7 linked regions of the Homo sapiens genome follow. The protein of the gene in region 4 interacts with the protein of the main gene of each other region in a biochemical or structural test. Each region holds a gene or a part of one and is shown on either strand. Other genes may lie near its edges. The genes, in order: PLXNB1, CYTIP, GOT1L1, DVL3, SLC34A1, KCNJ18 and SCN5A.

Region 1 (3,875 bases), about 140 Mb from region 4:
CTCCTGTCCCGCGCCTGCCTGCTGAGTGGCCCTTCCTGTCTTCCTCTGCCTCCCCCTTCAGAGCCCGCTTGTCTCCCCAGACCCTCCTGCAAGAGGTGGACCCAGCCCCTCCCCACCCACAGCCCCCAAAGCCCTGGCCACCCCTGCTCCTGACACCCTTCCCGTGGAGCCTGGGGCTCCCTCCACAGCCACAGCTTCGGACATCTCACCTGGGGCTAGTCCTTCCCTGCTCAGCCCCTGGGGGCCATGGGCAGGTTCTGGCTCCATATCTTCCCCTGGCTCCACAGGGTCGCCTCTCCATGAGGAGCCCTCCCCTCCCAGCCCCCAAAATGGACCTGGAACCGCTGTCCCTGCCCCCACTGACTTCAGACCCTCAGCCACACCTGAGGACCTCTTGGCCTCCCCGCTGTCACCCTCAGAGGTAGCAGCAGTGCCCCCTGCAGACCCTGGCCCCGAGGCTCTTCATCCCACAGTGCCCCTGGACCTGCCCCCTGCCACTGTTCCTGCCACCACTTTCCCAGGGGCCATGGGCTCCGTGAAGCCCGCCCTGGACTGGCTCACGAGAGAAGGCGGCGAGCTGCCCGAGGCGGACGAGTGGACGGGGGGTGACGCACCCGCCTTCTCCACTTCCACCCTCCTCTCAGGTGATGGAGACTCAGCAGAGCTTGAGGGCCCTCCCGCCCCCCTCATCCTCCCGTCCAGCCTCGACTACCAGTATGACACCCCCGGGCTCTGGGAGCTGGTGAGGCCCAGCCCAGGAAGGAGGCCTCAGGGGAGGGGATGTGGGGAAGATGCTACCCCTAGCTTGCCTTGTGATTCTGCACTGGGAGGAGGTGAGGGGCAGGGTGGAGTCTGCAGCCCCACACCGGCCTTGCCTCTGGAATCTGGCAAGGCAGAGGGCTGAGCTGGGCAGGGTGGGCTCCATAGACTGCCTTGCCCTTGGTGCCTGCAGGAAGAGGCGACCTTGGGGGCAAGCTCCTGCCCCTGTGTGGAGAGCGTTCAGGGCTCCACGTTGATGCCGGTCCATGTGGAGCGGGAAATCCGGCTGCTAGGCAGGAACCTGCACCTTTTCCAGGTCAGTGTGTCCTGCCTGCCGCTGTCCTTGCAGCCTCCTTAGCTGTTGAGAAACTCTGCACAAGCCCTGGGGAGCAGGAGGAGGGCAGAGTCCGAGGGCTCAACTCCAACCCAGAAGCTGTGCTGGGGGATCTGTTGGGTGACCTGCAGGACTCCCTGGGCCCAGCTCCTGAAGCTGCCCAACAGCTGTGTTCTCTGCCCTCAGGATGGCCCAGGAGACAATGAGTGTGTGATGGAGCTGGAGGGCCTCGAGGTGGTGGTTGAGGCCCGGGTCGAGTGTGAGCCACCTCCAGATACCCAGTGCCATGTCACCTGCCAGCAGCACCAGGTGCACACCATGAGCGCCTGGGTGGGCACGGGTGCACTGCACTGGCCACAGGCTGGCTGCCAACTGTAGCTGGCTGCACCACACTTTCCAGAGCCACGCTCTGACCGTGTCGCCCTGAGGGAGTCTCCACACCCATTTCTGACCTCTGACCATGTGCCCCGTGGAGTCCTTGCATCCCAGCTCTGAACTCTAACTTGAGACCCCATGGGGTCCCCATACTCCATTTCTGGCTCTGCCCTCCAACTTGTGGCCCCATGGGGTCCCTCTGACCCTATGCTCCTAACTGGTCGTTTTAGTCCTTTCTCTGACTAACCCCTCCCCAGGCCTGACACTTCCCCCAGTGCTTGACTCTGAACCCACTCCCATTTCTCCAGCTCAGCTATGAGGCTCTGCAGCCGGAGCTCCGTGTGGGGCTGTTTCTGCGTCGGGCCGGCCGTCTGCGTGTGGACAGTGCTGAGGGGCTGCATGGTGAGCCACCTGCGGGCTGCTGGGCTGGCGGTGGTAGCAGGGCTCTCCCAGGCCTGCCTCTCACGTGTGTCTCTGCCACCCCCAGTGGTACTGTATGACTGTTCCGTGGGACATGGAGACTGCAGCCGCTGCCAAACTGCCATGCCCCAGTATGGCTGTGTGTGGTGTGAGGGGGAGCGTCCACGTTGTGTGACCCGGGAGGCCTGTGGTGAGGCTGAGGCTGTGGCCACCCAGTGCCCAGCGCCCCTCATCCACTCGGTTTGTTGAAAGGCTGGCCATCCCTTCCTCAGTGCTGCCCTTAGAGGGAGGGTGTGGGGGCCCAAAGGTGGGAGGTTGGGGCTGCCTTTCCAGTTGAGTAGAGGTGAGCAGTCCTTGTCCTGGAACAGGTGGAGCCACTGACTGGGCCTGTAGACGGAGGCACCCGTGTCACCATCAGGGGCTCCAACCTGGGCCAGCATGTGCAGGATGTGCTGGGCATGGTCACGGTGGCTGGAGTGCCCTGTGCTGTGGATGCCCAGGAGTACGAGGTCTCCAGCAGGTAAGCTGGCTGCACCCAGCAGGAGCACGGCGCAGCCTGGGGCCTCCGCGGTTGGCGTTGCTGCTTGGGGCCTCCCACCCACCGCTCATCTGCCCCCCTCTCTCCCTGTTCCTTGATCCTGGCCACAATGCCCGAGTGCCAGCGTTGCCACTGAAGACCCTGAGCACCCACCACACCTGTAGGTTCCTGGCCTGGGCTGCTGGGGAATCCTTCCTGGGCCCGTCACTGCCCAGAACTGACTCGTGGCTCTGCTTCCTGCTCTGCTCACCTGGTCTTCTGAGGGACTGTGGATATATTAATAGCTGTGGCAGCAGGACCCTCAGATCAGACAGATAAGCTCAGGGGCTGGCCTTCTCACCAGCTCACTCTTCCCCAGGCATTGTCCTGGGCTGCCAGGCTCTTCAGGAAGGTAGACTTGGAAGGCACACCTCAGAAAGGCACACTGGCCGAGGGCCAGGCTCCACTGTCGTCTCTAGGGACCCCTGCTGCCTTCCTGGGGCTCCTGGGTTATGGTAACCTGGCCAGCGGTTGCAGGCCCCAAAGGTACACACGCAGGACATTCCTAAGGAGATGTCCATAAGCAGCAGGGCCCAAACGTGGCTGAATATCAGGGTAACCTGCAGATCCTGTCCCAAACCAACACAAACATCTGGATTCAGGAGGCCCACGGTGGGGCCCCCAAATCTGTATTTGAAACAAGGAACCACTCTCCTGGAGCACGGAGTGTCCCCTGAATGTGTTATGACCGAGAACTTACGGTGACTATCTAGACTGTTAGTGTTCCAGACCATAAGACTGCTGTGATTTATGAAGCAATTAGCATATATTCTGTCTGGAGCCTCCCCTGGGTGGCTCACACGTCACTTGTGTCTTCCTAGTGTTTGCAACAACTGTGACAATGTCACTGAGTTGAGCCACTGCAGGCTTAACACTCTGGAAGTTTAATTTGCCCAAGCTTCTATTTTCTGGCTAAGAACCAGCATTTTCTTAGATGGTTCACTTTCCCTTCACCTGTATTTCCCTGTCTGACTAGAGGCTTTCAGGGACTCTTTTTCCTGAATAAATCAAGTTTCTACCATGCTTTGAGTGGGTACTGTGCATGTGACGTGGCGGAGGACATGGGCGGCTAGCTGTGCCCACTCACTTGCTCAGCAGCTCGCCCCACAACCAGGCTGACAGGGCCCCTTTGTAAATTTATGCCACAGATAAATTCTTCCTTATTGGGGGCCCCTGGGGTTGAACTTAAATGATTGAAGCCACAAATATTAATTCTCAGATACCAAGGCCTTCTGATGTGTCATAAAGAATTCCCTCCAAAGTGAGAGAGGGTCTCTGTCAATCTTATGGAGCATGGGAAGGGGAAGACCACCTGACAGTAGGGCAGGGAGAGGGGCTGCCAGGTAAGCTTGAGGGGCCCTTGATGCAGCCTGGCACCCCCTAGCCTGCCCTGTGCCTACAGCCTCGTGT
Region 2 (3,875 bases), on a different chromosome or scaffold from region 4:
TTGTTGTTGGCTTTGGTTTCTGCAAAGCTATATCTGGTTAGCTTGTAGTTTCAAATTATTAGTCTTCAGAATCAATTGGGTGTTTACATTCAGAATTATTTAAAGATAGATTTCTCTGTGTGCATATTATCTCACTACCTGTACTGATAGGAAGTGTCAGACACCCCAGTATGGCTTCTACTTGTGAACACAGTTTTAGGACAAAAAAAAAAAATCTTTGCAATGGAAAGCTCGGTAGGAAGGAGACAGGAGGAATTAAGGACAGTCTCTATCAATGATGTCAAAGAAGTAGTGATTGTCTTACCACCCACTCTCATAAATGTAGTACGTTGCTTTTGGAAAGCAGTTTTTACAGAATGCTATAGTGAGAACCAGGGACCTGACAAACAAGTCCACAAACTTCAGTGGTACCACAGACTGACTCTCTTTTCCTAATTTTCTTTTAGTTATCACATTATTGCTAAATAGGCAACTTCTGGCAGGCTGATTTCATCTATAAGTTCAGATAGGGAATGTGTGCTCTGCTCTGGGATGTGTACACTGCTGGGCTGGGCTCTGCCCTGCAGGAGCTTTCACGGTGTGTCCGGCAGCACACCCATCAGGTGCCGTAACTCCCAATTGTCCTGAACTACACCAAAGGATTTTAATCACCTCATGACAATTTTAGGTAGAAAACTGTGCTAATTTCACTAGAAAAGACTTTGAAAATTATTCTTTAATCTGTATTGTGGCATGCATGGTCAATATCCAATAATTTTTCTTGAAGAGTCTGTGAGCCCACCATCAGACCTTACTTGGAAATGGCGGTATTGTATTTCGGTTTCTCCGGGCACTTAACGTCAGGAAATTAAGTTCAGCTCCATTATTTTGTTGCATCTTTGAATAGTCTGTGGAGCGTTGATATCCTAATGCTCCTTATTTAAAAGTGGGTGGGAGTTGCATGGAAGAATTGGGGAGTGAGGCAGGGGACTGGAAAGGGAGCAGAGCACATAATTTTGGGGCCTTTGAAACAAGTAACAGTGACAAAAAACCTCACTCTGGAATCAGTAACCTCTCCCCCGCACCCTCCCCAACACTTTCAGGAGATGAGTATATAGAGTGGGGACCAGGAGGAAGTAACCTCTGTAACCCAGAAGTGGCTAAAGTGTTGAACTTTGAGCTTCTCTAAGGAGAGCTGGCTATCTGGCTGAGCTGCCAAGTACTCCTGTCTTTCAGAAATTGACAGCTGAAGTATTTGGTCTTGGTTTCCCACTGAAGAGGAATGTGTAGAATCACTGCAGAGCAGAAGAAATTAAATTTTGAATATTAATGCCTGATCTTTTAAGTTATCTGACTAAAAACAGAAGAGTGATCATAAGCCCAACCCTAGGTATCAGTGTATTATGGCTAGCAAGGAGTTAAGAAGCTTTGTCTATTCAGCAGTCATAATTGAATGTGTAGTTTGCAAGCCTGCCAAATTGCTAAACCTAGATTTCTCATATTAGATAATGTGTAATAAAAGACAGCTGTTGCCAGCATATGCTGTGAATTGCACACCAGTTCCTCATTCATGATTTTTGGCGCCATCACTACAACCCTTAGAAAAGGCTCTGACTGGAGGGCTGTCTGGGGAACATAGACCCCACTGGTCAGATCCTTGAATAAGGCTGCTCGCCCTAGGGAAAGCGGGGCAGGAAAGACTTTTTTTTTTTTTCAAAGTGCAAAACCCTTGATAAGACCTTAGACACACTTCATTTCACTTTAGGCAGGTAGTTTGGTGTGTGAGCTAGTTTCGAACCCTGGGAACATTCCTTTCCACATCGCCTGAGTCTGACAGCCCGGATCAAAAACAAGCAGGCTTTGTGTCAAGACGTGGCACGTGTCAGAGAATTTGACGGTACTTAATTTATTTAAATTGTTTTTTGTTTAAGTGTTAGATGCTTGAAACAGCCTCTTAGCTAATACCGAATGGAAACTAATTTGTAATTTGACTTAATCTGACTTTTGGTGTTGCTGATAACCCAAATTAGTCAGTCCACAGGAACTGAAAATCTGCTATGCTTCTCATGTTGTGCTAGACAAATATTTTCATCTTTAACTAGTCAATTAGCTAGATAGAAAGGTTAGAAGTAGAGTGGTGGGGGAAATATCTATAGAGGCTTCAGGTCTGTCCTGTGGTTTAAAAGATTTTACATTTGAATCTATCCAGAATGACTTTTGATTCAAAAGACCGATTGGATGAAATCTTGAAGTTCCTAATAGATGCACTGATTTCCGGCATACTAAAAGGGTATTTAAAATTGACAAGGCTCAAAATTTTACTAATAATTTATTAATTCTTGCCACCATTCATCCACTTAGCAGCTATGTACTAAGGCACTACTATCTTTGTTTTCTGTTAGTACTTTTTCTGCATTTCTTGTTTCGGATTGAATTTTTTTTTTTGTTCTTGTCTGTTTTCTTTCATTTAAAATTTTTTGGTTTTTAAAATTTGTACTTATTCAGTTGATATATAATCATACATACTCATGGTATACATAGTGATGTTTTGATACGTGGAATGTACAGTGATCAGATCAGAGTAATTAGCATATCCATCACCTCCCTCACACAATGATCATTTCTTCATTTTGGGACTGTTGAATATCCTCCTTCTAACTATTTGAAACTAGTACATGATATACTATTGTTAACTATAGTTAGCCTACAGTATAGAGCACTAGAACTTATTCTTCCTATCTAGCTGTAATTTTTTATCCTTTAACAAGTGTGTCCCTATCCATTTCTTCCCCCAACCCTTCCCAGCCTCTAGTATCCTCTGTTCTACTTTTTACTTCTATGAGATCAACTTTTTTTAGCTTCCACATATGAGTGAGAACATGTGGTGTTTAACTTTCTATTCCTGGCTTATCTCACTTAACATAATGTCTTCCAGTTCAATCCATGTTGCTGTGAATGACAGGATTTCATTCTTTTTTATGGCTGAATTGTATTCCATGGTGTATATATACCACATTTTCTTTATCCATTCATCTGTTGTTGGACACCTAGGCTGATGCCATCTCTTGGCTATTGTGAATAGTGCTGTAATAAACATGGGAGTGCAGATGTCTCTTCGATATAATGATTTCCTTTCCTTTGGATGAATTCCCAGTAGTGGGATTGCGGGATCATATGGTAGTTCTATTTGTAGTTGTTTGAGGGACCTCCATACTGTTCTCCATAGTGGCTGTACTAATTTACATTCCCACTAACAGTGTATGAAAGTTCCCTTTTCTCCTTATCCTCACCAGCATTTATTATTTATTGTCATTTTGATCATAGCTATCCTAACTGGTGTGAGATGATACCTCATTGTGGTTTTAATTTCCATTACCCCAATGATGAGTGATATTGAGCATTTTTTCATATATTTGTTAGCCATTTGTATGTCTTCTTTTTCTTCCTTTCTTTTTTTTTTTTCTTTTTTTTTTTGAGATGGAGTCTCACTCTGTCGCCAGGCTGGAGTGCAATGGCATGATCTCAGCTCACTGCAACCTCCGCCGCCCGGGTTGAAGCGATTCTTCCAACTCAGCTTCCCTAGTATCTGGGATTACAGGCACCTGCCATCATGCCTGGCTAATTTTTGTATTTTTGTAGAGACGGGGTTTTACCATGTTGGCCAGGCTGATCTTGAACTCCTGAGCTCAGTTGATCCACCCTCCTTGGCCTCCCAAAGTGCTGGGATTACAGGTGTGAGCCACCATGCCCAGTCTTGTATAGCTTCCTTTGAGGAACGTCTGTTCAGATCATTTGCCCATTTTTAAATTTTTTTTTTTCTGTTGAGGTATTTTAGTTCATTATATATTCTGGATATATAAATGAGTAGTTTGCAAATATTTCCTTCCATTCCACAG
Region 3 (4,631 bases), on a different chromosome or scaffold from region 4:
GCGAAGCAGCAGCTGGGGCCGGGCACATTGGTGGTGAAGGCCTTCTGGGTGAGACATCAACAGTGTTTGCAACAATCATTTAAAGAGTTATTTAACATCAGGCTGGGTGTGGTGGCTCATGCCTGTAATCCTAACACTTTGGGAGGCTGAGGTAGGCAGATCACTTGAGGTCAGGAGTTTGAGACCAGTCTGGCCAACGTGGTGAAACCCTGTCTCTACTAAAAATACAAAAAAAAGCCGGGCGCAGTGACTCACGCCTGTAATCCCAGCACTTTGGGAGGCCCAGGTGGGCAGATCACCTGAGGTCTGGAGTTTGAGACCAGCCTGATCAACATGGAGAAATCCCCCTCTCTACTAAAAATACAAAATTAGTTGGGTGTGGTGGCGCATGCCTGTAATCCCAGCTACTCGGGAGGCTGAGGCAGGAGAATCTCTTGAACCTGGGAAGCAGAGGTTGCAGTGAGCCGAGATCACACCACTGCACTCCAATGTGGGCAGCAAGAGCGAGACTCTGTCTCAAAAAAAAAAAAAAAAAAAAAGAGAGAGTCATTAAACATCAAAAGGAAAAGAAAGCAAGCAATATGCAGACTGACTCTATAGAGGCTGGCTCTTTTCTCCCCTTGGCCTCTGCTGTCTATACTTACTAGTTGGCTGTCATTGAAACTTAACAAATGGCCAGGTGTGGTGGCTCATGCCTGTAATCCCAGCAGTTTGGGAGGCCAAGGCAGGCAGATCACCTGAGGCAAGGAGTTCGAGACTATCGACAAAGTGAGACTCCATCTCAAAAAAAAAAAAAACCAAAAAAAGAAAGAAAAAGAAACTTAACAAACATATGTAGAAGTCTTGGCTCTAGATAACTGAGAGAAATAGGACTGGCTTAGTGAGTTGCCAATTATATTCTAATAATAGGATTCTTTATTAAAACAACTGTGGAAGAAAACAGTGTTTGCTTTTTATTCCTTTTGAAATCTGGGGCACTTTGCAAAATGGAAATCAATGCCTCGACTTGCATTGGTGTGTGATCTGGGGTTTTTGCTTCTGCAGGAGAAGCCCTATCTGGCTTATTGGCTGCCTGCCTTGCCCTATGTCTTTCTTTCTTTTTTTTTTTTTTAATTTGTATAAATGTGTGAAGTACAAGTGTAATTTTGTTAGATGCATACATCGCATAGTGGTGAAGTCAGGGCTTTTAGGGTATCCATAACCCCAACAATGTACATTGTATCTGTTAAGTAATCTCCCATTATCCTTGCCCTGTCATCTAAGGAGTGGGCTTGTTACTTTGGACTGAGCCACCTGGGGCTAGAGAAGAGAAGGCATTGAGTGAGGGAAACGGGCTTGGGAATTCCGGAGATTGTTATCCTGCCCTGCCCGCTGTCTGAGGGGATTCTCCTCAAGTACCCTGGAATGTTCCTGTGGCCCCTGTGGATCGCCACCACAAAGATCATGAGGTTCTGTTGCCCTGGCAACCCGTTGTCCAGCGCCTCTGCACTGGGGCTGCCAAGGTTCCAGGAAGAGGCAGGACTGCCCGGCCCAGCCTTGGAGGAAGACTTCTGGGCAGAAGCGGAACACAGGAGCAGAGACACATAGTCTTGGCTCCAGTTTCGTTTCAGTTATGCCCACCCTTTCAGTGTTCATGGATGTGCCCCTCGCCCACAAGCTAGAGGGCAGCTTGTTAAAGACCTACAAACAAGATGATTACCCGAACAAGATATTCTTAGCCTATAGAGGTAGATGCCTAGCAGTTCTGAAGTATAAGACTTAAGTGATGGTAACTGCCTCTAGGAGGACAGTGTTCCCTGCTGCAGGGGGAGGGGTGCAGCCCAAGCTTCTGTGGGTGGAGAGATCTTTTCTTGTTAACAGAATTACCCAGTGGGGAAAAGTGCAGATAAGGTCCCAGGTCATTCCATGCTCTCTGCCCTTCTCTGGGGGCTTCTAGGGATTTGGTGAGAGCTATGTCCTCTTCCACAACTCTATGCTTGGGGGCCTGCATGGCCATCCCACACTTCTTCAGATTCTTACCTCCTCTCTCTCTCTTTCTCTTTCTCTTCCTGTTCTTGAACCAAGAATGGTTCTCCAGATTGAGCTTTCTGCTATGCAACTGGGGCTCACCACTGTGAAAGTCAGGGTTACCTTTATTTAGCTTCATCTACCTATAACTCTCATTTTGCATATATATATATATATATATATATATATATATATATATATATTTTTTTTTTTTTTTTCTTGAGACAGGGCCTCACTCTGTTGCCCAGGCTGAAGTGCAGTGGCAAGATCTCAGCTCACTGCCACCTTTGCCTCCTGGGCTCAAACCATCCTCTTGCCTCAGCCTCCTGAGTAGCTGGGACTACAGGCGCTGGTCACCATGTCTGGCTGTTTTGTATTTTTTTGTAGAGACAGGGTTTCATCATGTTGCCCAGGCTGATCTTGAACTCCTGAACTCAAGTGATCCACCCACCTTAGCCTCCCGAAGTGCTGGGATTACAGGCCTGAGCCACCAATCCTGGGCTTGTATAATTTTTAACCTTTAAAATGGCATAGGTTTCAGTTGTCTTTTTTAAAAAGACAAAAATAATACACATTCACTAACAGCATATTCTTTTCATCAAGGAGAAAAGAAAAGGGAAAGTTGTATTTTCACAGGCACCTTCCCACAGCCCCATGGAGTCCAGGAGAGATTTGTTTGCAGGCTGTCTGCAGAGCTCAGCCCTGGGGGCCCAAACCAGGCATCTGGAGCTCCCTCTGTGGTTTTCCTCACAGTCTGCATGACAAATGAAGGCCATCCCTGGGTTTCTCTCGTGGTGCAGAAGACTCGACTACAGATTTCACAGGATCCCTCCCTGAATTATGAGTACTTGCCCACCATGGGCCTGAAATCATTCATCCAGGCCTCTCTAGCACTCCTCTTTGGAAAGCACAGCCAAGCCATTGTGGAGAACAGGGTGAGAAGGTGGGCCCTCCCCTGGCTCATTTAGACACAGAGAGTGGCGATCTGGGTCTGCACAACCTTAAACCCGAAGGGGACCTCGGAGGGCCCCCTGGTATTGATAAAAGAGATACCTGAGGCTCAGAGAGTCCACAAGTCCTTAGCCATCGAGTCAGGATCGGAATCTCAGTCCAGTGGTATTCCCACCTGCTCACACTGCTGATTTGAAAGCTCTTTCAAGACAGGAATGATCTGAATTGGAGGTGGTGTTAGTATTCCCATTACTGTTTTATTTTTTAACCTATTATATATATTTTTTGAGACAGAGTCTCACTCTGTCACCCAGGCTAGAGTGCAGTGGTGCCATCTCAGCTCACTGCAACCTCCACCTCCCAGGTTCAAGCAATTCTGGTGCTGCATCCTCCTGAGTAGCTGGAATCACAGGCATGTGCCATCACGCCCAGCTAATTTTTGTATTTTTTGTAGAGACAGGGTTTCACCATGTTGGCCAGGCTGGTCTCAAACTCCTGGCCTCAGGGGATTCCCTGCCTCGTCCTCCCAAAGTGCTGGGATTACAGGCATGAGCTACTGCGTCTCGCCTCCATTACTGTTTTAGAGTGTTATTTCTGTCTATTTCTTTTTATTTTTTAATGTTTATTTACTTATTATTTTTTTGAGACGGAGTCTCACTCTGTCACCCAGACTGGAGTGCAGTGGCCTGATCTCCGCTCACTGCAACTTCCGCCTTCCGGGTTCAAGTGATTCTCCTGCCTCAGCCTCTTGAGTAGCGGGGATTACACATGCCCAACACCACATCCGGCTAATTTTTGTATTTTTAGTAGATACGGGGTTTCAACATGTTGGCCATGACCTCGAGTGATCCACCCACCCCAGCCTCCCAAAGTGCTGGAATTACAGGTGTGAGCCACCACACCTGGCCTATTTGTGTCTATGTCTTGCTGGCAGGTAGGGGGTGTACACACTGTTGGTGACAGTGGTGCCTTCCAGCTTGGCGTCCAGTTTCTCAGAGCTTGGCATAAGGATGCTCGTATAGTTTACATCATCTCTTCTCAAAAAGGTTAGTCTTACCCAAGATGAGGGGAACAGCAATCCCCGTCCCTTGTTCCTAATCCTCACCCCATTTGCCATCTTCACTGTTATCCCTCATTCTCTGTCATGAGCAAAATGGCAGACAAGCCAAGCTATTTATGTCCTTTTCCTGTTAATGTCCCACCTTCAGCCAGTGACTCTCAGCCCCACACTCCAGTACCTCTGTCTCCGTCTCTCTGTTTCCCATGTACCAGCTAGTGGGGGGCTGTGTTCCCACAGAACTGCATGGACTCGTCTTCCAGGACATGGGCTTTACAGTTTATGAATACTCTGTCTGGGACCCCAAGAAGCTATGCATGGACCCCGACATACTCCTCAATGTGGTGGAGGTAGAGGGGCCCCGCTCAGAAACTCCTCCCTAGAGCTGACTTACAGCCTAATGTTCCTCTCCTCCCCACACCTCTTAAGTCATCCAAGACCTTTTCCAGGTTTGAATTTGCCTGGCCCTTCAATGGTAACTAACATGGAGGAGCACTTCACCCCCAAATGCCCTGGGGCCGCCACTCCTGGGTGGGGGTGAAGCCTGATGAGACCGTCTGTACCTGCAGCAGATCCCACATGGCTGTGTCCTTGTGATGGGGAACATTATCGACTG
Region 4 (3,875 bases):
GCCCTTCCTACGCAGGGCCAAGGCTTGTTCTTCCTTAGATCCCATCCCCCTAGTGCAGTGTTGAGAACCTTGGGGCTGGGGGCTGCACCGGGGACTCACCTTGAGGAGGAGTCAGGTGGGAGTGAATTCCTGCCACCTCCACCTGCTGCTCAGGGCCTCTGTCTATTCCAGTCCTCGTCCTTCAGCAGCATCACGGACTCCACCATGTCACTCAACATCATCACGGTCACTCTCAACATGGGTGAGTCTGAGGAAACAGCACTCTCAAGCACCTGCTATATGCCAGACACTGGGCAGACTTGAGTTCAGAGAGCGTAGAATATGTTCCCTGCCCTCAAGGAGCTCTCTTTCGTAAACATCAGCTGATACATAAACTGATCATTTTAGTATCTCACCATCAGGGCTATGACAGAGATAAGCACAGAGAGCTGTGGAAGCAGAAAATGGTATCAGGGAAGGCTTCCTGGAGGAAGTGATTTCTGAGTGCCCACTCCTTCACATCTCTCAGCCATTGCATCCTTGCTCTCCGATTTCTGCCCTAGGTACTCTCTTTATGAGACAGCTGGATATAGTAAAAGGAGCCCAACTATGGGATTTAAATCTGAGTTTGATTCCTGGCTCTGCCACTTACTGGCTTAGAAAAGTCATCTTCTAAGTTCACTGAACCTCAGTTGCCTGCTCTGTAAAATGGGACTGAGTCCCTACCTTATAGCCAGCAAGGGTTCCATGGAAGCATGTTTGAGCATGCTGAGTGCAGTGCCTGATTCAGGATCAGCAAATGTCAGTTCAGTTCCTGTCCCTTTCCATTTTCTAATGGGCTGGGAATGCGGGTAGGAACCTTGCTCCCCCTTAAGGTCTTAAATTACTCTCTATAGAAAAATATAACTTCTTGGGCATCTCCATTGTGGGCCAAAGCAACGAGCGTGGTGACGGCGGCATCTACATTGGCTCTATCATGAAGGGTGGGGCCGTGGCTGCTGATGGACGCATCGAGCCAGGAGATATGTTGTTACAGGTATCAGTGCCCATCCTAGGCGGTGGTGTGGATAGAGGGCAGGGAGGTGTCCTACCATCTGTACCCTGCTCCTTCAGAGGCCCCTTCTTGGTTGGGGGAAGACTCCCTGACCTACCAAGTTGAGTTCCCTTTTCATCCTCCCCAGCACAGCTGTTTATCCCACTCCTGGTCCTTTCCCAGGTAAACGAGATCAACTTTGAGAACATGAGTAATGACGATGCAGTCCGGGTACTGCGGGAGATTGTGCACAAACCGGGGTATGGATGGAATGGGGCACTGGGCAAGGGGCTTGGTCTGGCCTATACGCATCCTGCCTTCACTAGGACACCCTTGTTTTCAGGCCCATCACCCTGACTGTAGCCAAGTGCTGGGACCCAAGTCCACGTGGTTGCTTCACATTGCCCAGGAGTAAGTGGATGGGAGACTCAGTCCTAAAGCTGGTGCTTACATACATGAGCACTGTCTCTCCTTTCTTCTCTCACCCAGAACCCCCATATCTATCCTGTTGGGCCCAGCAGTGGGTGGGGTGGGTAGCCCATGACTCCTCATCCTCCCTGCAGGCGAGCCCATCCGGCCCATTGACCCTGCGGCCTGGGTCTCCCACACTGCAGCCATGACCGGCACCTTCCCTGCATACGGCATGAGCCCCTCCCTGAGCACCATCACCTCCACCAGCTCCTCCATCACCAGTTCCATCCCTGACACAGAGCGTGAGTGTCCCACCCTGTCTCCTGGGCCCAGCAGACAGGGCCAGGTGGGGGGACTGATGAGGGTCCATGTGGAGACTCTTGCTTGAGCATCAGAGAGGGCTGGAGATGGGGCTCGGCTCATTCCAGCAACCCCACACTGCAACTCCCCCACAGCGGGCACTCCAACCCTCACTAAACAGTGTTTGCTTCTGAACTTGTATGAGCACCCAGGGCGCCTCAGTTTCCTCTTACAAAATGGGACTCACGATATAAACTTTACCAGGTTCCTGTGGGTTTAATGAGAGGATATAAGTGAAGCACCATTGCGATGTGTGGTGTAAAGTAAGCATTCAGTAAACGGCAGCCATTTCGATTATCATCACATGCACATCGTACACTGGCCAAGCACCTGCATTTACATTATTTAATCCTTTATTCAAATAGCCTTGTAAAGTAGATATTAAAATCCCCATTTTTTACAGAAGGGGAAACTGAGTGTCCAAGAAATCAGTAATTTTCCCAGCATTGATCCCATAATTACTAGATGGTAGAGCTAGAATGCAAACTCTTGTTTACCTAACTCCAAAGCCCCTTTCTGCCTCACCATTCTGCCTCCCACCCCCAGGCCTAGACGACTTCCACTTGTCCATCCACAGTGACATGGCTGCCATCGTAAAAGCCATGGCCTCCCCTGAATCAGGGTTGGAGGTCCGTGACCGCATGTGGCTCAAGATTACCATCCCTAATGCTTTCATCGGTGAGAGAGCCCCATGGTGGGATGCAGGGTGGGTGGGGAGTGATGGGGCAGGGCAGGCCGGAGGGCCCAGGACTTGCCTTGGACCCTTCCTTTGATCTGGAGCCAGCCCCAGCCTCATAGCTTCTGTGAGGCCAGATGAGTCCAAGTCAGATGGGCCTCCCCATCAACTGGCAGCCTTGTCCCCAGGCTCAGATGTGGTGGACTGGCTGTACCACAATGTGGAAGGCTTCACGGACCGGAGGGAGGCCCGCAAGTATGCCAGCAACCTGCTGAAAGCTGGCTTCATCCGCCATACCGTCAACAAGATCACCTTCTCCGAGCAGTGCTACTACATCTTCGGTGACCTCTGCGGCAGTATGTGCCTCCCTCATCTTCTTGCCCTGTCTCCTGGCTGGGAGTGGGGAGGTAGCCAGGGAAGTGGCAGCAGACTCTGGGGAACCCAAACTGGGGGACAGCAGAGCCAGGGGCCCAATTCAAGGCCTGAGAGTTCTATGGTGGAAGAAGAGTCCAGTTTAGCCTCTTCACCTGGCCCACATCTCCCTCTTGGGCCTGGCATTTTCTAAGTGCCTGCTCTGCCTGGTACCATGTTGGTTGTTCCTAAAGCATCATCTTACTCAATATTCACAACCTCCCAGAGGCCCAGCTCAGGAGGATACTGCCAGAATAGGCCTTTTCCTTCTCACTCGTCAAGGTCTCAGCTAGGGTGTTGTAGGCTTAAAGGGAAGAACTGGAGGCCTAGGTAGCCCCGAGGAGCACACAGTCATTCCCTCAAAACAAACAGCCTGGAGGCTCACGTCATCACCAGCTCTGGGCAACAGCTGACAGACCACTGCTTTCCTCCACCACCACTCCCCATGCTGGCTGCTGGCCTCTTGACAGGTTGATGGCTTGGCTGCAGGCTCCACAGGCAGCCTCAGAGCCCTGTCTCCTGACTTCTCTCTTGGAAGGCTGGGGCTGGCTCTTCTTAGGGCTGGGAGGAATGTCTCATCTTAATAGGGCCGGTGGCCTCAAGGGCAGTTGTAGCTCTCTTGGAGCTCTGGGACCTGGTACCGATAGTGTGTGAGCAGAGGGTGTCCCAGGCAGGTATTCAGTCCTGGTGGCCCCTTATATTCTCTTCAATGTAGTTCCAACATTGGTGGGAGTAGCCTTGCCATTAAGGAATGTATAATTTCCCCGGGGGCGCCAGGATCGTGAGATGAGTAATGTTGGTGGAGTGAGACAGTGCTATGAAGAGCTAGGCCTGGCTGGGAACGGGGTGGAGAGCAGTGGGGGAGGCACCTAAGTTGTTCTTTCCTTCTGGCCCCTTCCCACCCTACTCACCCTGCCCAGCAGCACTGGGAAAGTATAATCAGGGCCAAGTACCTTCTATATAGGGAATCTCTGGAAGGCCCTGCACTCATTCTAGGCTTTTAGT
Region 5 (4,528 bases), on a different chromosome or scaffold from region 4:
GCTTCTGGCTTGCAGAGCCAACTGCTCGTGCCAGAGGCCGCTCAGAAAGCCTGAGCAGACGGAGCTTGGCACCTTCCCTCCAAAACAGCTCCTCCTGCTGGGTTCCTTTCTCAACGCGAGACACCCCCAACCAGGCAGGCTCTCAGCCCAGAAAAGGTCTGGGGAGGCCATGGCCAGAGCCCAGGTGCACAGACAAGGTGGGACTCACCACCCAGGGGGACACACAGACTCTGTCACTGGCCAGGGAGGAGGCAGGCAGTAGGCAGGGAGGTGCTGAAATGGCAGAGAGGCTGGCAAGAGATACGTTGGTGCTGGAATGGAGCTGCCTTCTCTGCTGCTTGTATGAGTCCCAACAGCAGCTCTGGTCAGATCCAGCATTTTCTCACTTTCACTAGGGCTGTAGCCCCAAAATAAATCTTTAGAAGTGGTGGCTGTGTAAATCAGCAGCATTTTGGAATTATATCTCTTGATGGATTTGATCGATAGCTAACTGCCTCCCCCACTAAACCCAGAGCTCCGTGACAGCAGGGAAGGCAAACTTCAAAAATATCAAAAAGCACAACCTTATTAAAAAGGAGAAACACCCCCAGTTCACCAGGAGCACCTTGGATTCAGCTGCTCCTGCCAAGGGTCTGAACTGCACGGGGGAATGGAGAGAAACAGGTCACGTGGGCCGGGGTCTCTGGGCCCGCTGTGGGGGTGTCAGTTTGCTCATAGGTGGAGACACTCGATGTGACATTAACAGCACCTTCAAGCCCAAGGACCCAGAGATTCTGACACAAGAACTGAGAACTGATTGCATTTCCGTGACTCAGCGACACCCTCCTACCTGGGCATGAACCCAGCCCTAGCCAAAGATCCAGAGACCCGACTCCCATCTATTTCCTTTTCCTCTCTCCCTCCCCGTCACCAATTCTACTGGTCAGATGTCCCTGGGATGCACCTGTCCTCCCCAGCCCCTCCGTTCCCATCGGAGTTCAGGCCTCATCATCTCCTGCCTGGACCATTAGCCTCTTAACTGGCCCCTCCGCTTCCAGGCTCCCTTCCATATATCCGGGTTCCACCCCGGGGGCCATTCTAAAAGGCAGATCAGGCCCATCCCAGTCTGGCCAGCGGCTCCACATTCACTCAGACTCACATCCTGGACCCATGGTCGGGCATTAGAGACCTGCCACGATTCAACATTCCACGGCCTTTCCAGCTTAGGTCCTCATCTCACACTCCCTCTCCTCTGAGCTCCCCCTGGGAGACTTACAGACACCCCGACGCTTGGCAAGGCCATAGGATGTTTTTGTTTGGTTTGGTTTGGTTTTTCTGAGACAGTCTCACTCTGTCACCCAGGCTGGAGTGCAGTGGCACGATCTTGGCTCACTGCAACCTCCGAAGGCCATAGGATGTTTGGGTCATTCCCTGGGGAGTCCTGTCAGGCCAGGAACGAGGGGACCCTGGGAACAAGGTGCTGAGTGGCATCAGGGTCTCTGCCTGCAGGCGGGGGATGTGTCTGGGTCGTGGTTGATGGGAAGAACCTGACCATAGATTCCCCATGCAGAGCTGACGATTAGCAATTAACTGGGAGGAATCTCAGGGGTGAGGTTAATTGGGGGACAGAGGGAGGGCAGCTAGGGTTCCAGGGACTTTGCCCTTGACCCAAGAGTATAAAGAGGAGGGTCTCAGTTCTCCTCAGGGTCCTGGAGGCTTCATTGAGCTGCTGAGCAGAAGCTGAAACACAGAATTCTAAGGTGAGCCCAGGACCCTCACATCCCAACCCCACCCCCAGCTCTGAGTAGGAAACAGCCCAGCACCCCAGCCCCTTCATCTGTGTCCTATCTGCGCCCACCCCCACCGCGCCCCATATAACATGTCAGTCCAGCCAATCGCGGTGGCTCCCACCTGTAATCCCAGCACTTTGGGAAGCCGAGTGGGCGGATCACCTGAGGTCGAGTTTGCACTAAAAATACAAAAAATTAGCCAGGTGTGGTGGCAGGCACCTGTAATCCCAGCTACTTGGGAGGCTGAGGCAGGAGAATCGCTTGAACCCACGAGGCAGAGGTTGCAGTGAGCCAAGATTGTGCCACTGCACTCCAGCCTGGGCGGTAAGAGTGAAACTCCATCTCAAAAAAAAAAAAAAAAAGGACTCCTGCTCCTTCAGGACTTGAATTCAACTCTTCACACCCCTACAACAGCCAAGGACGCTGGGACAATGCGGGGAGTGCTGAGGCAGATCAGGGCACTCCACCCCAATAGCCAAGACTCCTGGGGCAGTGCGGGGACAAGGGGGGGCTGAGGCAAGCCTGTCAGTGTTTGTTCATTGCCCCTTGAGGGGGTGGATGGGGAAAGGAATTCATTGTGAGGGGAACCCAGGAACTCGGGATCCGGCCCAGGGGATCTCCGTGTGTGCCCAGCTGACCCCATGAGAAGGCAGGTGTCTGCAGCTCCTCCTTGCTCTCCAGGTGGGCAAAACTGAAGCCCGGCCCAGCCCCAGCCCACACCTGCAGCCACTGCCAACACCACGTATTCCCTGGCCCCCTCCAGCCCCAAACAGGCTGGGCGTCCTCAGTTCTCAGTGTCTTTTATCAATGCTATATCCAAGCCTCTGGTTCGGAGCCTGGGCTAGAGCTCAATAATACTCATTGAATGAGTGAATGGTGAATGAATGATCACCTCACCACCACCACACACACCCCTCCGAGACTCACATGCAGGTGCCCAGCACAGATGTGCACATGTGAGTCTGCATGTGAGTCTCGGAGGGCTGTGGTGGTGATGATGGAGGGTGTGGTTTGCTGGGTGTGTGTTTGTGCGTGTGAGTCTCGGAGGGGTGTGTGTGTGTGGTGAGGATGGAGGGTGTGCTTTGCTAGGTGTGTATTTGGAATCATGCGCCATGGGGGTTTGTGCAGGTGAGGGTGTGTGGGCATGAGTGTCCCGGACACAGCTATTGTCATTCAGCGTTGCTGAGACCCACTGACCTGCAGACCTCATAGTGGGTGCCCAGGATGTTGTCCTACGGAGAGAGGCTGGGGTCCCCTGCTGTCTCCCCACTCCCAGTCCGTGGGGGGCATGTGATGCGAGGGACGGCCTTTGCCTACGTGCCCAGCCCTCAGGGTAAGTGCTGCTCCCACACCCTGGACCCTGGTTGCCCACGGTTGCCCACATCCCGGATGAGGCCACTTCCCCCGCCTGTTCCTCCCCGCCTCCCCACTTTGGGGCCCTGGGGCTCCTGACCAGGCTCCCTCCCTAGTCCTACACAGGATCCCGGGGACCTCTGCCTATGCCTTCCCCAGCCTGGGCCCTGTGGCCCTTGCTGAGCACACCTGCCCCTGTGGGGAGGTCCTGGAGCGCCATGAACCACTGCCTGCCAAGCTGGCCCTGGAGGAGGAGCAGAAGCCAGGTGGGCCTGGGCTGGGGGTGGCAGAGGCGGCAGCAGTCCCTGCCCTGGCCTCTGCCCACTATGCTCATGGCTTCCCCCATCCAGAGTCCAGGCTGGTCCCCAAGCTGCGCCAGGCTGGCGCCATGCTGCTCAAGGTGCCACTGATGCTCACCTTCCTCTACCTCTTCGTCTGCTCCCTGGACATGCTCAGCTCGGCCTTCCAGCTGGCTGGAGGTAGGGCCCGGGTGGAGGAGACCTGGGAGGGGTTCCTGAAGGGCCTTGGACAACGCTGGCTCATGCTCCCCAGGGAAGGTGGCTGGTGACATCTTCAAGGATAACGCCATCCTGTCCAACCCGGTGGCCGGGCTGGTGGTGGGGATCCTGGTGACCGTGCTGGTGCAGAGCTCCAGCACCTCCACATCCATCATCGTCAGCATGGTCTCCTCTGGCTGTGAGTTGGCCCACCAGGGTGGGGAAGAGCTTGGAGGGGCACCCCAGGAGCTGGGAAGGGTGGCAAATGGGGAGCGTGACCCCAGTAAGGCTGGCCTCCATTCAGCTTGACTCCTGTATCAGCCAGGGACATGAGAGGAGCCCAACTGTAGCTGTATGTGACCCAGATGATTTATGGCAAGGAACTGGCTTCCCCGATGGTAGTTTGTCTGGGCAAGTCAGGAATCCGTAGGCCAGGGCATTGGAAGGGCAGGCGGGAACTCTCAGGTGGGCGCCGACACTGCAGTCCAGACAGGGCAGCGTTTCTCCTTTCTCAGGGAAGCCTCAGTTCTGCTTGAGGCCTTTCATTCTATTGGATTAGGCTGACCCAGGTTACCAAGGATAATCTCCTTTTCTTAAAGTCAGCTGACTGTAGACGTGAATTGCATCTACAAAACACCTTACAGAACACCCAGGCTAGTGTTGGGTTGAATAACTGGGTACCACAGCCTAGCTAAGTTGACACATAAAACTAACCATCACTGGCCGGGCGCAGTGGCTCATGCCTGTAATCCCAGCACTTTGGGAGGCTGAGGGGGGCAGATCACGAGGTCAGTAGATCGAGACCACCCTGGCTAACACGGTGAAACCCTGTCTCTACTAAAAATACAAAAAAAAAAAACAACAAAAACCAAAAAGCATTAGCCAGGCGTGGTGGCAGGTGTCTGCAGT
Region 6 (4,398 bases), on a different chromosome or scaffold from region 4:
ACCACCTGCAGAGCCTTCCCAACGCCAACCTTGGAGCCAGTTGTGAATAGCTGGGGGGGTGGATGAATGAATGGGTAGATGGATGGATGGATGGATGGATGGATGGAAGGATGGATGGATGATGGATAGGTGGGTGGAAAAATGAATGCAGGGATGAATGGGTAGGTGGATGGATAAATGGATGAGTGGGTATATGGATGAATGAATACATGGGTGGGTGGATGGATGGATGGGTGAATGAGTGGTTGGGTGTGAGGGTGGATGGCTGTATGGAGGAAGGATGGATGAGTGGATGAATGGGTGAATGGATGAGTGGATGAATGGATAATAGGATGGAAAGATGGATGGATGGATGGATGGATGAATGGATGGATGGATGGATGGTTGGATAGATGGATGGATAAGTGTGAAAGTAGATGATTGGATGGATGGATGAACAGAAGGGTAGATGGGTGGGTGACTGAGCGGATGGGTAGATGAATGAATGGAGGGATAGATGGGTGAATGGGTGGATGGATGGATGGATGGGTGGATGGATGGGTAATGGGTGGGTGGATGGATGGATAGACGAATGGGATGGATGGATGGGCAGATGATTGGGTGGATGGATGGGTGAGTGAATGAGTGGATGGGTGAGTGAAGAAGTGAATGGATAGAGGGATGGCTGGGTGGATGGGTGGGTATATGGTTGAGTGGGTGGATGAACAGATTAATGGATGAATGGGTGACGGGTGCATGGATGGATGGATGGATGGAATGTTGGGTGATGGATGGGTGGAGTGAATGAGTGGATGAGTGGATGGGTGGATAGATGGACAGGTGGATGAGTGTATGGGTGGGTAAAGAAATGAATGGATAGAGGGATGGAAGGGTGGATGGATGGACAGATGGGTGAATGGATGGGTGGGTGGATGGGTGGGTAGATGGATAGATGGATGGGTGGATGGGTGGATGGATGGGTGGGTAGATGGATAGATGGATGGGTGGATGAGTGTGAGGGTGGGTGATGAGTGGGTAGATGGATGGATAGGGTGTTTGGGCAAGTAGGATAGATGACTAGATGGATGAGCAGGTGGGCACATGGCTAACTACATGGATGGGCACACATCAGTAATTTGCCAGAGATTTGCCTTGGGTACACATACATCCTACATGGTCCCTGCAATCCCAAAGATGCAATTTCCCCACCTGTCAAAGGGATCCCCCTGCCTTCCTATCCAGTGTGCCGTGAGAATCAGAGAAGAGGTTGGTGGGAAGGGGCTCTGAGGATCTCCACGGTGAGCCACCTGACATGCTTCTCACCTCCGCACCTCCCAGCCATGGAGTTCATGGGGCCTGCCCTTTCCAAGGTTACAGCCGAGGCTGGTTTGTCACACTGGTTTTTCTGGCTGGAATTAAGGCAACTGTTGGTGAGTCACCCCCACATCATCAGCCTCCTGGGACAGGTGACAGTGGTTTACAGGCACACAGACCTAGATTCAAATCCCAGCTCTGCCCCTCATAAGCTGTGTGACCTTGAGTGAGTCACTTCCCCTCTCTCAGCTTGTTCTGAAATGGGATGGCCTGCCTGGTCTCTAGTGGCCCTTCAGTCCCTCTTCACCCTCCAAGTCCCCCAATCCCCAGCCCCTTCTTCCCCATCCCTCATCATTCTGGGAGCAGAAGCCACAGGCCTACACTTTGCCTCTCTCAGCCATTCCATCCTCAAAACTGATGGGGACACAGAGGTTCAGAGATGGATGGGTGGATGGATGGACGGGTGGATGGATGGACAGGTGGATGAGCTGCAGAGTTTCAGAGAGGTTCTGTCACAAGCCAACATCAAACAGCTGGGGACCTCCACGGCAGGGACTTGGGTCCACCCCCTTCCCCGAGTGAGCCAACACTGTGCTTGGCCCTGCATGCTTGGCAGCTGGCTGCAGTCATCCCGATGCTCACAGCCCTGCCTTGGAGGAGGGACAATTCTCCCCTCTGGACAGATAGGAAAACTGAGGCTGAGAGAAGCTAAGTCACCTGCACAGTCACCTGGAGCTGGAACTCTGAGCAGCGAAGGTCGGATATTGCCACAGGGCCATGGGGAGCCAAGCAGGGGTGGGGGCCAGAAGTGTGGGCAGCAGCATCTATCCACATCCTGCTGGTCACCTGGCTTGCACCAGGCTCTCCCAACCTCGTCCCTCACTCCCTACTACCTGAAAGGGGCATTCCCCAGACCACAAATCCAGCTGGATTTGTTTTTATCTAGGAGGAAGGCAAAATTAGCTCTACTCTACACAGGGGTACTGAGACGTAGAGCAGAGAAGCGAATTTCCTGAAGTCACAGGGCAGGGCAGCACCCTGCAAACAGGAGCCAGCCTTCCGGATGCCCTGGCCAGAGCTCCCGCCACCTGCAGGGGCCACAGCAGCCGCCATGTGAGCTCACCCCGCCAAGTCCCACAAATGCTTCCCGGGGTTATGGTCACAATCCTGGATGGGGAGGTGGGCTGCAGGGGCAGTGCTTCCCCATGACCACGACTGAGGGCCAACAGGCCGGGCTGGCCCACAGCGTCCCGCAGGGGAGGGCAGGGCCTGGGCTGAGGATGGGGCTGAAATCCCCCACGGAACAGGGCAAGGCACTTCCCCTTCCTGAGGCTCAGCTTCCCCTGAAAAATGAGGCTGGTGTCGCCTGCCAGGCCTCTCAGAGGGTGTGCCATGAAATTGAAGGTGGTGACGAAGCTGCAGTCCGGGCACTGGGCCTCGCCCCAGCGGGTCTCTGGGAGGTGGCAGCCGTCACCCTCCCTGGAGAGGCCTGGCAGCCCCCCAGCTGACTGGGGCCTGAAACTCCCCATCTGCAAAATGAGGAGACCCCACACACCTCGGGAGACTGTCACGAGGGTAAGCCAAGCCCTGGCTTCAGTATCTGTCCCACAGAGACGATGCAGCAGTGTGGGTCCTGCAGGCGTTCACTGTGACCGGCGTTCCTGACACCACGTAGGCACTGAAAGCAGAAACAGGCTTCCCAACAGGACGGAAAGCTGACTGTGCCCAAGCCTCCCTGTGGCCTGCTGGATGTCCTCAGAAGCCCCCCTGGCCCGCAAGGAGCCACAAAACGCACAAGGGCAGGATCTGCCTCGCTGTTCCATGCTCGGGATGCGCCCAGCCCACAGAGGATGCTCAGAAAGTGGAAGCTGCAGGAACCTTGAGTGACACTGACCCCTCACATTCTGTGGCGTAAAGATGGGGGCTGGACATATGGACCCCAGAAAGAGGCTGCACCAAGCGGCTAGAAAAGGCAAATGTCCACCCTTAAGCCCTGAGGTGAGGCCAGGTCAGAAGATTCTGGCCCCACAGGGTGGACGACAGTCACACCAAACACCAGGGAATGTTTCTGACGGTATTTTTATCTTGAGAACATCCTTCTTCACAGAGGGTGGGGGCAGGAGGGACAGAGGGTGTCCTTGGCCCCAGGCCCCTGGGAGAAGCAGAGAACAGAGGCCCTGCAGTAGTGCCCTCTGCTGGGGTGGCCATCACAGACACTGCCCCATCCCTGGGCTCCATTAAGTCCCACGAACAGGGGAGACCTGGAGGGTCTTGGGGCCCTTCTAGGACTCCTGGCTCTGCCCCAACTTGCTGTGTGACCTGGAGCAGGGCTCTGTCCCTCTCTGGGTCTCCCTCTTCAAGTCCTCACTGGGCACCGAGGACTTGAAGAGGAAGCATTGGGCGCCTGCCTTCATGGGGCACCCTGCCTCACAGGGCAGACGGTGAGAAGTCAGCAGTCATAAGTCGCTGGGCCCTCTGGAGCCCAGGGGAGGTGTCTAACCCAGTGGCAGGAGGGGTGCTTCCTAGAGGAGTATCTGCCAGTGGGGAGGCAGCAGCGAGCAGCAGGGGTGACAACCCCGCCTGAGACTAACCATAGCACAGTGACACAGCTAAGAGCACCAGAGTCCTGCAGTCTTGGTGCAGATTCCAGCTTCACTCTCCAGGCACTGGGCCTTGGGCAAGACCCACCCTGACTGTGTGCAAACCAGGGGGCTGGCCCAGCTACTCCACAGAAGCCCTGCCAGCCCTCCATTCCAGGATCTAAACTATTCGGGGTTTGTGGGGAAGGTGTGACGAGATGGGCACAGCCTTGACACCATCATATCAGGGAAGCTCAGCGTGTGCAGGCACAGAGGCTGAGGCATCACCCCAGGGGGCCTCAGATGTCATATTAATGAGCCTAGACTTGATCCCAAAGGCAATGGGGAGCCCAAGGGCCATAAGAGAGCTTGAAACTATAAGAGTTCTGGGGCAACAAGGCATGAATTCAAATCCTGTCTCCATCCCTTCTTGTGTGGCCTTGGGCTAGCCACATAACCTCTCTGAACCGCAGTTTTCTCACCTATAAAATGGAACTAATCATAGCACCTATCTCATGAGGTTGCA
Region 7 (3,875 bases), about 150 Mb from region 4:
GTGGCAACTTGGGTAAGTTACCTCACCTCTGTTTCCTCTTCTGGAAGATAAGGATGATGGCATCTGCTCACTTCCTAGGACAATGGGAAGGACTAAATGAAATGATGGCTATAAAGTGCTCGGCCCATTGCCCCAGTGATCGTAAACACTGGACCCATGTCAGTCAGTGACATTATTATATAAGGAGTCTGGAAAGGGCACTTGGGCCATATAAGACAAGTTTATTTCACTCTTTATTCCATGATTTATATCCATGCCCCTTAAAACTCCAAACCCAGGTAGTCACAGGAGACCCAGGGGCAGTGACGCCCTCAAAGGAGGCAGAGTTAGGAGAGCGATAAGAACCATCACAGAGAAGCTGAGAGAAGACACTGGCCATGGCGTGGCATCAGGGAGCACTGATTTCTGGGCCAGTGTTTCATGCCCTTCGATGGGCACATAAATCATCTGGGCTTCTTAAGATGCAATGGGCTGGGGTGGAGCTGAGATTCTGCATTTCTGATAAGCACCTAGGAGATCCCAAGGCTGCTGGTCCTCAAACCACACTTTGAATAGCAAGGAGCTAAAAGACCTGAGTTCTGGCCCAAGCTGGGTGGGCAAGATACTAAGCAGATCCCCTCTGGCCTGAGAACCCAAGATGTAGAAGATGGGCCTAGGACAGCTCTATTGTGTAGGTACACACTGAAGATTAAGGAATGAGGGGGCTGAGAAGGAACCCTGCAAAGGACCCATTTTTCTGGGTCACAGATGCAGACATGGAGACTCAAACAGACAGGAGCAGGCAGAGTCCTAGCATGCCCAGTGGACGCAATCCTGGAAGGGCCGCCTCTCCTTGGCTCCTTGCCATATAGAGACCCCCCCCCCACCGCCAACCCCTGCACAGTGATGCTGGCTGGAAGACAGAGGTGCCACCAGTAGCCACAGTCTCTGTTGTTTCCCACAGGCACTGTGCTCTCGGACATCATCCAGAAGTACTTCTTCTCCCCGACGCTCTTCCGAGTCATCCGCCTGGCCCGAATAGGCCGCATCCTCAGACTGATCCGAGGGGCCAAGGGGATCCGCACGCTGCTCTTTGCCCTCATGATGTCCCTGCCTGCCCTCTTCAACATCGGGCTGCTGCTCTTCCTCGTCATGTTCATCTACTCCATCTTTGGCATGGCCAACTTCGCTTATGTCAAGTGGGAGGCTGGCATCGACGACATGTTCAACTTCCAGACCTTCGCCAACAGCATGCTGTGCCTCTTCCAGATCACCACGTCGGCCGGCTGGGATGGCCTCCTCAGCCCCATCCTCAACACTGGGCCGCCCTACTGCGACCCCACTCTGCCCAACAGCAATGGCTCTCGGGGGGACTGCGGGAGCCCAGCCGTGGGCATCCTCTTCTTCACCACCTACATCATCATCTCCTTCCTCATCGTGGTCAACATGTACATTGCCATCATCCTGGAGAACTTCAGCGTGGCCACGGAGGAGAGCACCGAGCCCCTGAGTGAGGACGACTTCGATATGTTCTATGAGATCTGGGAGAAATTTGACCCAGAGGCCACTCAGTTTATTGAGTATTCGGTCCTGTCTGACTTTGCCGATGCCCTGTCTGAGCCACTCCGTATCGCCAAGCCCAACCAGATAAGCCTCATCAACATGGACCTGCCCATGGTGAGTGGGGACCGCATCCATTGCATGGACATTCTCTTTGCCTTCACCAAAAGGGTCCTGGGGGAGTCTGGGGAGATGGACGCCCTGAAGATCCAGATGGAGGAGAAGTTCATGGCAGCCAACCCATCCAAGATCTCCTACGAGCCCATCACCACCACACTCCGGCGCAAGCACGAAGAGGTGTCGGCCATGGTTATCCAGAGAGCCTTCCGCAGGCACCTGCTGCAACGCTCTTTGAAGCATGCCTCCTTCCTCTTCCGTCAGCAGGCGGGCAGCGGCCTCTCCGAAGAGGATGCCCCTGAGCGAGAGGGCCTCATCGCCTACGTGATGAGTGAGAACTTCTCCCGACCCCTTGGCCCACCCTCCAGCTCCTCCATCTCCTCCACTTCCTTCCCACCCTCCTATGACAGTGTCACTAGAGCCACCAGCGATAACCTCCAGGTGCGGGGGTCTGACTACAGCCACAGTGAAGATCTCGCCGACTTCCCCCCTTCTCCGGACAGGGACCGTGAGTCCATCGTGTGAGCCTCGGCCTGGCTGGCCAGGACACACTGAAAAGCAGCCTTTTTCACCATGGCAAACCTAAATGCAGTCAGTCACAAACCAGCCTGGGGCCTTCCTGGCTTTGGGAGTAAGAAATGGGCCTCAGCCCCGCGGATCAACCAGGCAGAGTTCTGTGGCGCCGCGTGGACAGCCGGAGCAGTTGGCCTGTGCTTGGAGGCCTCAGATAGACCTGTGACCTGGTCTGGTCAGGCAATGCCCTGCGGCTCTGGAAAGCAACTTCATCCCAGCTGCTGAGGCGAAATATAAAACTGAGACTGTATATGTTGTGAATGGGCTTTCATAAATTTATTATATTTGATATTTTTTTACTTGAGCAAAGAACTAAGGATTTTTCCATGGACATGGGCAGCAATTCACGCTGTCTCTTCTTAACCCTGAACAAGAGTGTCTATGGAGCAGCCGGAAGTCTGTTCTCAAAGCAGAAGTGGAATCCAGTGTGGCTCCCACAGGTCTTCACTGCCCAGGGGTCGAATGGGGTCCCCCTCCCACTTGACCTGAGATGCTGGGAGGGCTGAACCCCCACTCACACAAGCACACACACACAGTCCTCACACACGGAGGCCAGACACAGGCCGTGGGACCCAGGCTCCCAGCCTAAGGGAGACAGGCCTTTCCCTGCCGGCCCCCCAAGGATGGGGTTCTTGTCCACGGGGCTCACTCTGGCCCCCTATTGTCTCCAAGGTCCCATTTTCCCCCTGTGTTTTCACGCAGGTCATATTGTCAGTCCTACAAAAATAAAAGGCTTCCAGAGGAGAGTGGCCTGGGTCCCAGGGCTGGCCCTAGGCACTGATAGTTGCCTTTTCTTCCCCTCCTGTAAGAGTATTAACAAAACCAAAGGACACAAGGGTGCAAGCCCCATTCACGGCCTGGCATGCAGCTTGTCCTTGCTCCTGGAACCTGGCAGGCCCTGCCCAGCCAGCCATCGGAAGAGAGGGCTGAGCCATGGGGGTTTGGGGCTAAGAAGTTCACCAGCCCTGAGCCATGGCGGCCCCTCAGCCTGCCTGAAGAGAGGAAACTGGCGATCTCCCAGGGCTCTCTGGACCATACGCGGAGGAGTTTTCTGTGTGGTCTCCAGCTCCTCTCCAGACACAGAGACATGGGAGTGGGGAGCGGAGCTTGGCCCTGCGCCCTGTGCAGGGAAAGGGATGGTCAGGCCCAGTTCTCGTGCCCTTAGAGGGGAATGAACCATGGCACCTTTGAGAGAGGGGGCACTGTGGTCAGGCCCAGCCTCTCTGGCTCAGCCCGGGATCCTGATGGCACCCACACAGAGGACCTCTTTGGGGCAAGATCCAGGTGGTCCCATAGGTCTTGTGAAAAGGCTTTTTCAGGGAAAAATATTTTACTAGTCCAATCACCCCCAGGACCTCTTCAGCTGCTGACAATCCTATTTAGCATATGCAAATCTTTTAACATAGAGAACTGTCACCCTGAGGTAACAGGGTCAACTGGCGAAGCCTGAGCAGGCAGGGGCTTGGCTGCCCCATTCCAGCTCTCCCATGGAGCCCCTCCACCGGGCGCATGCCTCCCAGGCCACCTCAGTCTCACCTGCCGGCTCTGGGCTGGCTGCTCCTAACCTACCTCGCCGAGCTGTCGGAGGGCTGGACATTTGTGGCAGTGCTGAAGGGGGCATTGCCGGCGAGTAAAGTATTATGTTT

The links.
Region 1: the proteins of DVL3 (region 4) and PLXNB1 interact in a test that uses a peptide from one of them, tested with the Homo sapiens proteins (one large-scale study listed by IntAct).
Region 2: the proteins of DVL3 (region 4) and CYTIP interact in a test that uses a peptide from one of them, tested with the Homo sapiens proteins (one large-scale study listed by IntAct).
Region 3: the proteins of DVL3 (region 4) and GOT1L1 interact in a test that uses a peptide from one of them, tested with the Homo sapiens proteins (one large-scale study listed by IntAct).
Region 5: the proteins of DVL3 (region 4) and SLC34A1 interact in a test that uses a peptide from one of them, tested with the Homo sapiens proteins (one large-scale study listed by IntAct).
Region 6: the proteins of DVL3 (region 4) and KCNJ18 interact in a test that uses a peptide from one of them, tested with the Homo sapiens proteins (one large-scale study listed by IntAct).
Region 7: the proteins of DVL3 (region 4) and SCN5A interact in a test that uses a peptide from one of them, tested with the Homo sapiens proteins (one large-scale study listed by IntAct).

Annotation. Positions count from the first base shown.
Region 1 is NC_000003.12:48,416,444-48,420,318, reverse strand, and holds part of PLXNB1 (plexin-B1 precursor), read left to right. Parts: intron 1-61; coding exon 62-742; intron 743-952; coding exon 953-1,075; intron 1,076-1,279; coding exon 1,280-1,402; intron 1,403-1,776; coding exon 1,777-1,870; intron 1,871-1,955; coding exon 1,956-2,128; intron 2,129-2,256; coding exon 2,257-2,408; intron 2,409-3,867; coding exon 3,868-3,875. UniProt on the Homo sapiens protein: Receptor for SEMA4D. Plays a role in GABAergic synapse development. Mediates SEMA4A- and SEMA4D-dependent inhibitory synapse development. Plays a role in RHOA activation and subsequent changes of the actin cytoskeleton.
Region 2 is NC_000002.12:157,437,277-157,441,151, reverse strand, and holds part of CYTIP (cytohesin-interacting protein), read left to right. Parts: intron 1-60; exon of another isoform or gene 61-1,876; intron 1,877-3,875. UniProt on the Homo sapiens protein: By its binding to cytohesin-1 (CYTH1), it modifies activation of ARFs by CYTH1 and its precise function may be to sequester CYTH1 in the cytoplasm.
Region 3 is NC_000008.11:37,937,011-37,941,641, reverse strand, and holds the start of GOT1L1 (putative aspartate aminotransferase, cytoplasmic 2), read left to right. Parts: upstream 1-1,517; 5' UTR 1,518-1,612; coding exon 1,613-1,727; intron 1,728-2,760; coding exon 2,761-2,942; intron 2,943-3,892; coding exon 3,893-4,004; intron 4,005-4,255; coding exon 4,256-4,365; intron 4,366-4,584; coding exon 4,585-4,631.
Region 4 is NC_000003.12:184,165,251-184,169,125, forward strand, and holds part of DVL3 (segment polarity protein dishevelled homolog DVL-3), read left to right. Parts: intron 1-171; coding exon 172-241; intron 242-875; coding exon 876-1,015; intron 1,016-1,195; coding exon 1,196-1,272; intron 1,273-1,355; coding exon 1,356-1,423; intron 1,424-1,575; coding exon 1,576-1,725; intron 1,726-2,329; coding exon 2,330-2,461; intron 2,462-2,647; coding exon 2,648-2,815; intron 2,816-3,875. UniProt on the Homo sapiens protein: Involved in the signal transduction pathway mediated by multiple Wnt genes.
Region 5 is NC_000005.10:177,382,749-177,387,276, forward strand, and holds the start of SLC34A1 (sodium-dependent phosphate transport protein 2A), read left to right. Parts: upstream 1-1,685; 5' UTR 1,686-1,739; intron 1,740-2,946; 5' UTR 2,947-2,993; coding exon 2,994-3,102; intron 3,103-3,238; coding exon 3,239-3,388; intron 3,389-3,472; coding exon 3,473-3,601; intron 3,602-3,674; coding exon 3,675-3,818; intron 3,819-4,528.
Region 6 is NC_000017.11:21,691,165-21,695,562, reverse strand, and holds the start of KCNJ18 (inward rectifier potassium channel 18), read right to left. Parts: upstream 3,041-4,398; 5' UTR 2,849-3,040; intron 1-2,848. UniProt on the Homo sapiens protein: Inward rectifier potassium channels are characterized by a greater tendency to allow potassium to flow into the cell rather than out of it.
Region 7 is NC_000003.12:38,548,627-38,552,501, reverse strand, and holds part of SCN5A (sodium channel protein type 5 subunit alpha), read left to right. Parts: intron 1-943; coding exon 944-2,181; 3' UTR 2,182-3,875. UniProt on the Homo sapiens protein: Pore-forming subunit of Nav1.5, a voltage-gated sodium (Nav) channel that directly mediates the depolarizing phase of action potentials in excitable membranes.